Regions from separate parts of the Homo sapiens genome. Here region 2 is linked to region 1. A link means that fine-mapping ties the variant in region 1 to the expression of a gene that starts in the linked region. Tissue or cell type: whole blood. Region 1 holds a variant in brackets; the other region holds the start of a gene. All regions are shown on one strand. Distances are from middle to middle. Region 1 holds the start of RPF1 (ribosome production factor 1 homolog). Region 2 holds the start of CTBS (chitobiase).

What was found. PIP is the estimated chance that this variant, and not a neighbour inherited with it, causes the effect. A credible set is the group of variants that fine-mapping cannot tell apart.
Region 2: CTBS starts here. The variant in region 1 is the best candidate, but not a certain one, in a credible set for the expression of CTBS in whole blood (TOPMed, PIP 0.71).

What each region holds. Positions count from the first base shown.
Region 1 is chr1:84,477,267-84,481,657 of GRCh38, forward strand. It overlaps RPF1 (ribosome production factor 1 homolog), which reads left to right and starts at 2,000. Exons shown (of 9, transcript NM_025065.7): 1 at 2,000-2,243; 2 at 3,690-3,746. The coding sequence starts at 2,016. RefSeq lists enhancers at 1,661-2,221, 2,417-2,576. The variant C/A (reference allele first, on the strand shown) is at 1,707.
Region 2 is chr1:84,572,770-84,577,160 of GRCh38, forward strand. CTBS (chitobiase) reads right to left here and starts at 1,671. Exons shown (of 7, transcript NM_004388.3): 1 at 1,470-1,671. The coding sequence starts at 1,646. RefSeq lists enhancers at 261-310, 1,024-1,123, 1,234-1,523 and a silencer at 1,684-1,803.

The DNA of each region.
Region 1 (4,391 bases):
TAGATATTGGTACATAAAATTTGAAATTAAGGCAGATTCTGGAAAACTGACTCCTAACAGTAAATCAAAAGGGATTTCTTGTTGCTATTTGGAAAGCATTTTCATAAAATTAGAATGAAGAATACAGCAAATTTAACCACTAGGAAAACACTTTCTTCACTTGCCTTCCATGACATTCTACTCTCTTGATTTTCTCTTCTCCTTCTCCTTTGCTGGGTCCTCCTTTTCTTTCCATCTCTTCATGCAGGACTCCTCCAGGGTTCAGTCCTTGATCTTCTTTTTTCAGTTTTCTATCTACACTCATTCTAATGGTTTGAAATACTACCTATGTGCCAATTACTTCCAAAGTTTGATCTTTAGCCCACACCTCTCTGTCCTGCTGCAGAATCATACATCCCAACTGACTAGTTGACACCACCAATCAGATCACTAAAAAGTATCTCAAACTTAACATTTCCAAAACTGAAATCTTGATCTTACCTCTCAGATTTGTTCCATCTGAACTTTCCCGCATTTCACCTGATGGTAACTCCATCCTTTGAATCACTCAGGTCGAAAGTCTTGGAGTCATCCTTGACTCTTTCATGTCCTCCCTTCAGTTCCATCAGTAACTTTACCTTCCAGAGGAATCACTTCTCAACCACCTACACAAGACTTACCCTGGTTCAGGCCACTATCATTTCTTCCCTTCTTCCACACACCCTGCCCCTGCATAGGCTCTTCTCAAAAGAAGATTCTGAATGACGCTTTTACTTTATTTTTATTTATTTTTTTGAGAGGGTCTCACCCTCTCACCCAGGCTGGAATGCAGTGGCACCAACATGGCTCATTGCAACCTAGCCTTCCAGGCTCAATGGATCCTACTGCCTCAGCCTCCTGAGTAGCTGGGACCACAGATGTACACCATGCCCAAACAGATATATATATTTTTTTACTTTTTGTAGACATGGGGTCTCACAGTGTTGCCAAAGCTGGTCTTGAACTCCCAGGCTCAAGCAATCCTCCTGCCTTGGCCTCCCAAAGTGCTAAAATTACAGGCATGGGCCACTGCACCAGCCTGATACTTTTAAGATGTTAAGATCATACCATTCTTTTCCTCAAAATTCTATAAGAGATCTTCATCTCACATAAAATAAAAGCCAAAGTCCTTACAAAACTCTACACCACCTGTCCAATCTCAACACTTCTTGCCTTTCCTGGCTTGCTACTGACTAGGAGCATTGGAGCTGGCTGTTTGCTTTGCCAGGACAGCTTTTCTCCTTGATAACCAGCTTTTCTCAGATTAACAGCTCTTCCCTCAGATAACTAGTTTAGCCCATTACCTCCTTCAAACCTTGGCTCAATGTAACGTTTTCAATGAAGCCTACTCTGAGAATCCTATTTAAAATTGCAACGTACTTTGGGAGTCCAGGGCGGACAGATCACCTGAAATCAAGAGTACAAGACCAGCCTGGCCAACATGGTGAAACTCCATCTCTGCAAAAATACAAAAATTAGCCGGGCATGGTGGCACGTGTTTGTAGTCCCAGCTACTCAGGAGGAGGAGTTTGCAGTGATCGGAGATCGTGCCACTGCACTCCAGCCTGGGCATTAAAGCAAGGCTCCGTCTCAAAAAGATGAATGTCTCTTCATCTTCTTTTATCCTGTTCTATTTTTTTTCCATACCATGTCTTACTCTGTAGCTCACCATAATTTATTTGTATGCT[C/A]ATTTTAGGTTTCCCTCAAGTAAAACGTAAACTAATCCAGGCACGGTTTTTGTTGTTGTTCCATTATTTTGAGGGCTGGGCACATAGATGCGCAAGGAGTGCCCAAACTCATCATCTCACTCTTTATACAGCTGGGCAAACTGCCTAAAGTTTCCTCAAGCCTCAGCTTTACTATTTTCTTGAATGGCTAAAACTCACAAAACACATCTAGCGTCAAAAACTTTGCGACCCCGGAAGTAAAAGGTTAAGGAAGGGGGTCACAGGAGAAGGCTATTTCCGTTTCCGTACGGAAGCAAAGGAGCCAAGACCATGGCGAAAGCCGGGGATAAGAGCAGCAGCAGCGGGAAGAAAAGTCTAAAACGGAAAGCCGCTGCCGAAGAACTTCAGGAGGCTGCAGGCGCTGGGGATGGGGCGACGGAAAACGGGGTCCAACCCCCGAAAGCGGCTGCCTTTCCGCCAGGCTTTAGCATTTCGGAGATTAAAAACAAACAGCGGCGACACTTAATGTTCACGCGGTGGAAACAGCAGCAGCGGAAGGTACGCGAGAGGCGGGGGCTGCCGGGCGCTTGCGCGTTGTTCCTGACGCTTAGGGCGGTCGCGGGGCGCACATCTGTGGTTGTCTGCTGGTCTCAAAAGTGTTCTCTGTGGCTCCGTGGGAAGGGTGGCGTCGCGGCCCACGTGTTCTGGTCCCCTCGCCCTAGTTTGGAGACTCTAGGTTCAGCCTTTTGCCTGAGCGTCAAGGTGGAAGATTATCTTGATAGGCTCTTTCCTGGGACGCTAGATTCACAAGGAAAGCTGTAAGGCCAGTTGGCTTAGTAGTGAAAACTACGCCCTCCTGGCCCAGAAGGCAAAAGTCTCAGCCCTTTGGTCCGTCTAGGTAGCGTTGGTTAATTTGCAGAATCTGAAATGGAGGCAATACGTAATAAATCCAAAATACTGCTTCTCTGATTCCTGCAGGAGCTCCTTACCGAAATTAGTACTGTAAAGTTTCTGGTAATTGTATTTGTTCTTTTCAGCTTTATCCTTATACGTTTCTGGTAGGTAAACAAACTGAAACGTAAAGAGGTTTAAACGACTTGTCAAGGTCGCAGTGCTCATTTCTGGTTAAATTGCAATTGGAAGAAAACGTTTGCTTATTCTTGCACATCGTAGAAGTTCACACAATATTATTATTATGTGTCTGCCTCCTCTTACTGGCCCTTCTGAGGCCCGGGACTGGTTCTTACTCATGTTCAGTGTCAAGGTGCTGTTTCAATACATACAAGGGGCGTTTAACTCATTCTGGTATGCACGTATTGGGGAGGGATGTCCTGGAAGACTTATTGGAGCTATGATTTCTAATCTGAAACCTGGTGGATTGAGGATCAGTAGGTGCTGGGGAAAAAAGAATATTTTTTATTTTGTCAAGCATTCTATCTAGAAATCTCCAGAAGAATATATAGATTGACAATACAAATACAGATAATCTTAAGCCACCTTGCAAGCTCTTACTAAATTTTAGAAGTATATTTTGATTATAAAATATGTGAATAACTGGTGATGGTTTTATGGAAAACAACCTGAAAACTCAGCTCCCATTCCTATTTTTAGTGCTTTTCAAGAGAAGCAAGCAGCATAACCATGGTCGTCTTTAGGATGCCACCAGTTAGGCAAAACAAAACACAGTGGAAACCATCACATACTTTAATTAATTTGAGGCTTTATGGAAAAAGGTTAAGCTACTCAAATTTTAAATGTTCAAACTTGCCAGTTTAGATTTTTTTAAAGGAGCAGGTCTTTGTTAAAGAAATCTTATTGATTGGCCAGCTCATTTGGCTTACAGTAATTTAGGTAGAAAACTCCACGTCCAGATGCTTATTTCAATAGATTACAAAGACCGCCCAGTTCGAGTATTCATAGCATTAGTAATTTGTAGTTTCAGTATGTGTTTGTGATATAACTGGTTGTTTCTCAGTATTGTTCTCTTTTTTTTTAACCCTTTAGGAAAAGTTGGCAGCTAAGAAAAAACTTAAAAAAGAAAGAGAGGCTCTTGGCGATAAGGTAAATAAAATTTTTAGCTGTTTGCTTTCTATCTTATATTAGGGAATCCCTCCTGATATTTAAGTTGAATTACTTTCTTTTAAAATTTATTATTACGTATTTCAGATGTATGAAGAAATACAAAAGTAATATAATAAACCTCTTTGTATCATTTACCCAGCTTAAGAAATAATGCATTAGCAAAGAATGTTGGAAGCCCCTCGTCTGCTTCATAATTGCTTTTCCCTCCGAAGATAACCACTCGTGAAATTTTTGATTATTTTTTCCATGCACTTCTTTTACCTTTACTGTGTATGTTTGTGTACCTATACGGTAACACAGTGGTGGTATTTTGCATATAACTTTGTGTTTCAGAGGTCAACACCTCTCCCTGACTTTGGGAATGGGGAAGCTCCCCCAGGTTAGGCCTGGAGCTTGGCTCTTGTCATGTGAAGCAAAGATTTTTGGTCAGGCAAGGCTGGGGAAAGGCAGGACAGATCCTCTTCTGGAGTAGGGTGATAAGGGTGTGTTAAGCTTTAGAGCTGGTACAGAGGATATGAACCTGTGAAAAGTGAGAATGGGGAGTGGGAGGACGGTGAGGATTATGGCAGAGAAAAGAGCAGATAATGCATCAAGAAAGAATTTGGCTGTATTTGTGGTACTCAT
Region 2 (4,391 bases), 96 kb after region 1:
CCAGGTTCAAGCGGTTCTCCTGCCTCAGCCTCCCAAGTAGTTCGGATTACATGTGCCCGCCACCACGCCCAGCTAATTTTTGTATTTTTAGTAGAGACGGGGTTTCACCATGTTGGCCAGGCTGTTCTCGAATTCCTGACCTCAAGTGATCCACCCACCTTGGCCTCACAAAGTGCTTCTCAATCTCAAAAAGAGATTGAGAAAATTAAGAAATGTCTGGTTGAACTTTTACAGCTACTGTCCCCACTGCCTCTACCACCGCGCTGGGCCTCAGATTGTATAAAACATTTTAATTGGGAGGCCATTATGCTGAAACAGCTCCAACTGCCTTGGATTTCCTGCTTAAGCAAACTCCAGCCCAAGGTCAACAGTGAAAGGAAACTTAAGCTTAACCTATCAGAAACTGCCAACTAACCTCTAACTAGTAATTTTCCACCAAGTCATAGCTAAATAAGGCAAACAGTCATAGCCAACCAAGTAATTATTTTCCTTTGCTTCCCTGTTCGGCCTATAAAAGCCCATGCTACTAAAGCAGACCTCTCTGAACCCCTTCTGGTTTAAGTACTGCCGATTCATAAGTTGTTCTTTGCTCAAATAAAAAAGGTTATCCTACTTTGTCTGAAGTCTTTCTTTTAATAAGATGTTAGGTTTCCACACTAGGCAGGTTCTCCATAAACACTTTCACCATTTTTATTTCTTCTCCTAAGTCATGTATATATACTTTTTTACTGGCATCTAAGTGTTCTGCCTCAGATTAATGTACTAGATTAAGAACTAGGAATCATGCCTATTTCTACAAAAGAATCGTTCTTTGAATTAAGCCTTTGGACCTTCCTGATGTCATCCAATTCCTGCTTTCAGTCATCGAAGTGGGCAGTCAGGTGGTTTTAATATTGCTCCAGAAGGTGTTTGATTAAAGTTGCCAGAAGCCTTACAAATTGTTATGTAGATAGAAGGAAAATGTACTGAAAGCTATTTTTTTTACCACTCTTCATGGGTGGTTTTGAGGTACTTTAAAGGAAAGGGCTAGCAGGTATAGAAAACTAAAGGTAAGCAAAATACTCTGCATTCTAATGTACTGTTGGAGTGCTGAGATTCTTTCAAACGAAATCCTCGTTCCTTGGAAACATAAATGGATTATCCTACCTTGTTTGCTTTTTACACCCAGAGTGCTTCCGCAGAGGCACAGCAGGGGAATGAAAGGAGCTTGCCTTAGGAGGCAGATCTGGTTTGAACTCTCGCCTGCCTACGCAGGCACTTACAGGCTGTGAGGCCTGAGGAGTTACTCAACTTCTCTGAGCCCGAGCTTCCTCATCTATAAATTGAAGGATCCGTAAACAGGAAGGCCCTCATCGAGTGGTCAAAGCTGGTTTCGGCGCCCACGGCACCTCTCCTTAGGGCTCCGTTCTACCCTAACTTCTCTTCGTGCCCTGAAGCCCAGACCTAGAGGAGCAGAGGAAGGCGCTGACCTCGAAATCTGGATGGTGGCGAATCGGGCGGCAGAGCTCAGGCTCCGGGCATGGGCAGTCGGTCCCGGCCGCGAGCCGCAGCGCCAGCAGCGCCAGCAGCGCCAGCAGCGCTAGACCCGGGACGCCGCTCGGCGGGCTAGAGACGAGGCGCCAGCGTCGAAGCTGCGGCCGGGACATAGCAGCAGGTCTAGCGGGCCGGAGTGGGTTCCTACCGCCTGGGTGGGCGGGGCCTGCTGCGCGTCGGGGCAGGAAGGGGCGGGGAGAGTCGGGAAGGGCGGGGAGGGGCGGGAGGGGCGGGGCTCCGGGGCGGGCGTGGGAGGTCGGGCTTCGAGCGTCCCCGGGCGCTACAGGTGGGTGAAGTTAAGTGGCTGCTGGAGCGTCTCGGGGGACAGCCAGTGTCTGCGGCGCCGAGAGGGCCGTTCGTGGACTCAAATGGGTATCACCCCTACCGTTTATAGTCCTCCCAATAGTCTGCATCTCGTTTTGTCGTGGCTGGTCGTGTACTCCTTGTGGAGTCTGAAGGTACAAGGGGATCCCCAAAATGGAGAAGTGGGTGTCTTTGGAAGGGCCTACTGAGTAACATGGTTGGAGTGGCCAAAAGACTTTGTTTTTCTTTTGCTACTCAAAAGAAAGCTGGAATACCAAAAATTTTTACTTACGGATATCAGGTCTTAGTTAAGATCGTGGTTTGAATTCAAGCATCTAATTTTGCCTACTCTCCTGTTAAAAATCAAGTTTAACAACCTAAACACAAGGACAAAGAGATAACAGCAACAAAATGTTGGAAGCTGGAGAGCACAAGTATGAGTATGAGAGGTAAATCGGAAAAGGGGGAGATTAGTCAAAGGCTGCTCAAGGACTCTGATCGCTAGATCCTTTTTCCAGCTTCATGTCTCTGGGCAGCTGCCCCTCTTTCCCACCACGGGCTCCCACCCCGGCTGAATTCCCTGAAGGGGATAAATTCTCTGCTGAGTGGGTATTCCACCTAAAACGGAGAATAAGTGGCTTTATGCCTACTGAAAACTGAAACCCCTCGCTATCTGATTAACCTAAGAGGCTGAGCAAAGATACTGACATCGGGTTTTCTGGACAAATCATACACCCAGATCACCCTACAGTGAAATTCAAAGTTAAAAGCACCAGCTATCTACTTGGAGCTTCCTCTCTTTGTACTTTTTAATTTTTACTTTTAATCATGGACAGCAACCAAAAAAATCCAATAATGTAGAAAGAAGGGACCCAAACAACAGACAAAGGAATATGGAGGAAGCAGATGCTGCAGGGAGAACACTTTTAAAAATTCTCATAATAGCCCCAGAAAAATAAGAGAAGATGAAGCCACAACAGGGTGCAATAAAAGGGGTAGGGGATTTTTAAAAGTTAATAGAAATAAGAAAGAAGTGAAAAAACTATTAGTAGAAGATAACACTGAGGAATGTAGAGCAAAAACTCTGAAAGATAAGAAAATTGGAAAACGCAGTACAGAGGGGATGAAATAAATAATTCTTAAAGGTGCTTGAGAAGCAGCGTAGTACAAATAAGAAGAAATAAGTAATTTGGGCTGGGCACAGTGGTTCATGCTTGTAATCCCGGCACTGTGGGAGGCCGAGGTGGGCAGATCACTTGAGCTCAGGAGTTTGAGACCAGCCTGGCCAACATTGTGAAACCCCATCTCTACTAAAAATACAAAAATTATCTGGGCATGGTGGCAGACACCTGTAATCCCAGCTACTCGGAAGGCTGAGGCAGGAGAATCGCTTGAACCTGGGAGGTGGAGGTTGCAGAGATCACACCACTGCACTCCAGCCTCAGCAACAGAGTGAGACTCTGTCTCCAAAAAAAAAAAAAAAAAAGAAAAGAAAAGAAATAAGTAATTATCAAGGCTCCAGGACTGAAGAACACGCGTTTTCAGAATGAAAAGCTAGGCCAGGCACTGTGGCTCACACCTGCAATTGCATAACTTTGGCAGGCCAAGGCAGGAGGATTACTTGAGGGCAGGAGTTTGAGACCAGCCTGGGGAACATAGACCCTGTCTCTACAAAAAATAAAAAGCAAAAAATTAGCCCTGTGTGCCAGTGCGGTGGTAAAAGCTTGTAGTCCCAGCTGCTCGGGAGGCTGAGATGAGAGGATTGCTTGAAGCCGGGAGGTTGAGGCTGAAGTGAACTATGATCATGCCACTGCACTCCAGCCTGGGTGACAAAACAAGATCCTGTCTCAAAAAAAAAAAAAGTACAATTGAACCTCCATAACCAGAGGTTCCACATCCATGGTTTTAACCAATGTCAGATAACAGTATTTAAAAATAACAAATAATACAGCAATTTAAAAATGCAAATAAAAATACGGCAAGAGCACTGTCAACATAGCATTACATCGTATTATTATAATTAATCTAGAGATTATTTGAAGTACAGGAGGATGTGCATAGATTATGCCATTTTATATAAGGGACTTGAGCATCCATGGATTTTGGTATCTGGGAGTCCTGGAACCAATCCCTCATGATACTGAAATGTAACTATGTTTTTAACATGAATGGTTGCACTGAATCAAGTTTTCAAGGAAAAGAGCCTTCTGACTCATAGAATCAGACTGTATTCTGTGACACAGAAGAAAACACATATCTACCTGTGTTAGGGATCCCTAAGATCACCTCCAGGTTCAGTGATGCACTAAAAGAACTCATAGGACTCAGTTGTACTCACAGTTAAGATTTATTACAGCAGAAGAATATGAAGCAAAAGAGCAAAGGGAAAAAGTGCACAGGAAGAAGACAGGAGGAGGCCAAGCACAAGCATCACGTTGTAACATGTGTGAAGGGCTGTCTGCCATGGAAGCTCATTAGAGACTCAGGGAACAGCAGGAACACTCCCAAATCCACCTACAGGCCAACCTTCAGGAAGCAGGCCTTTCTAAAGATCG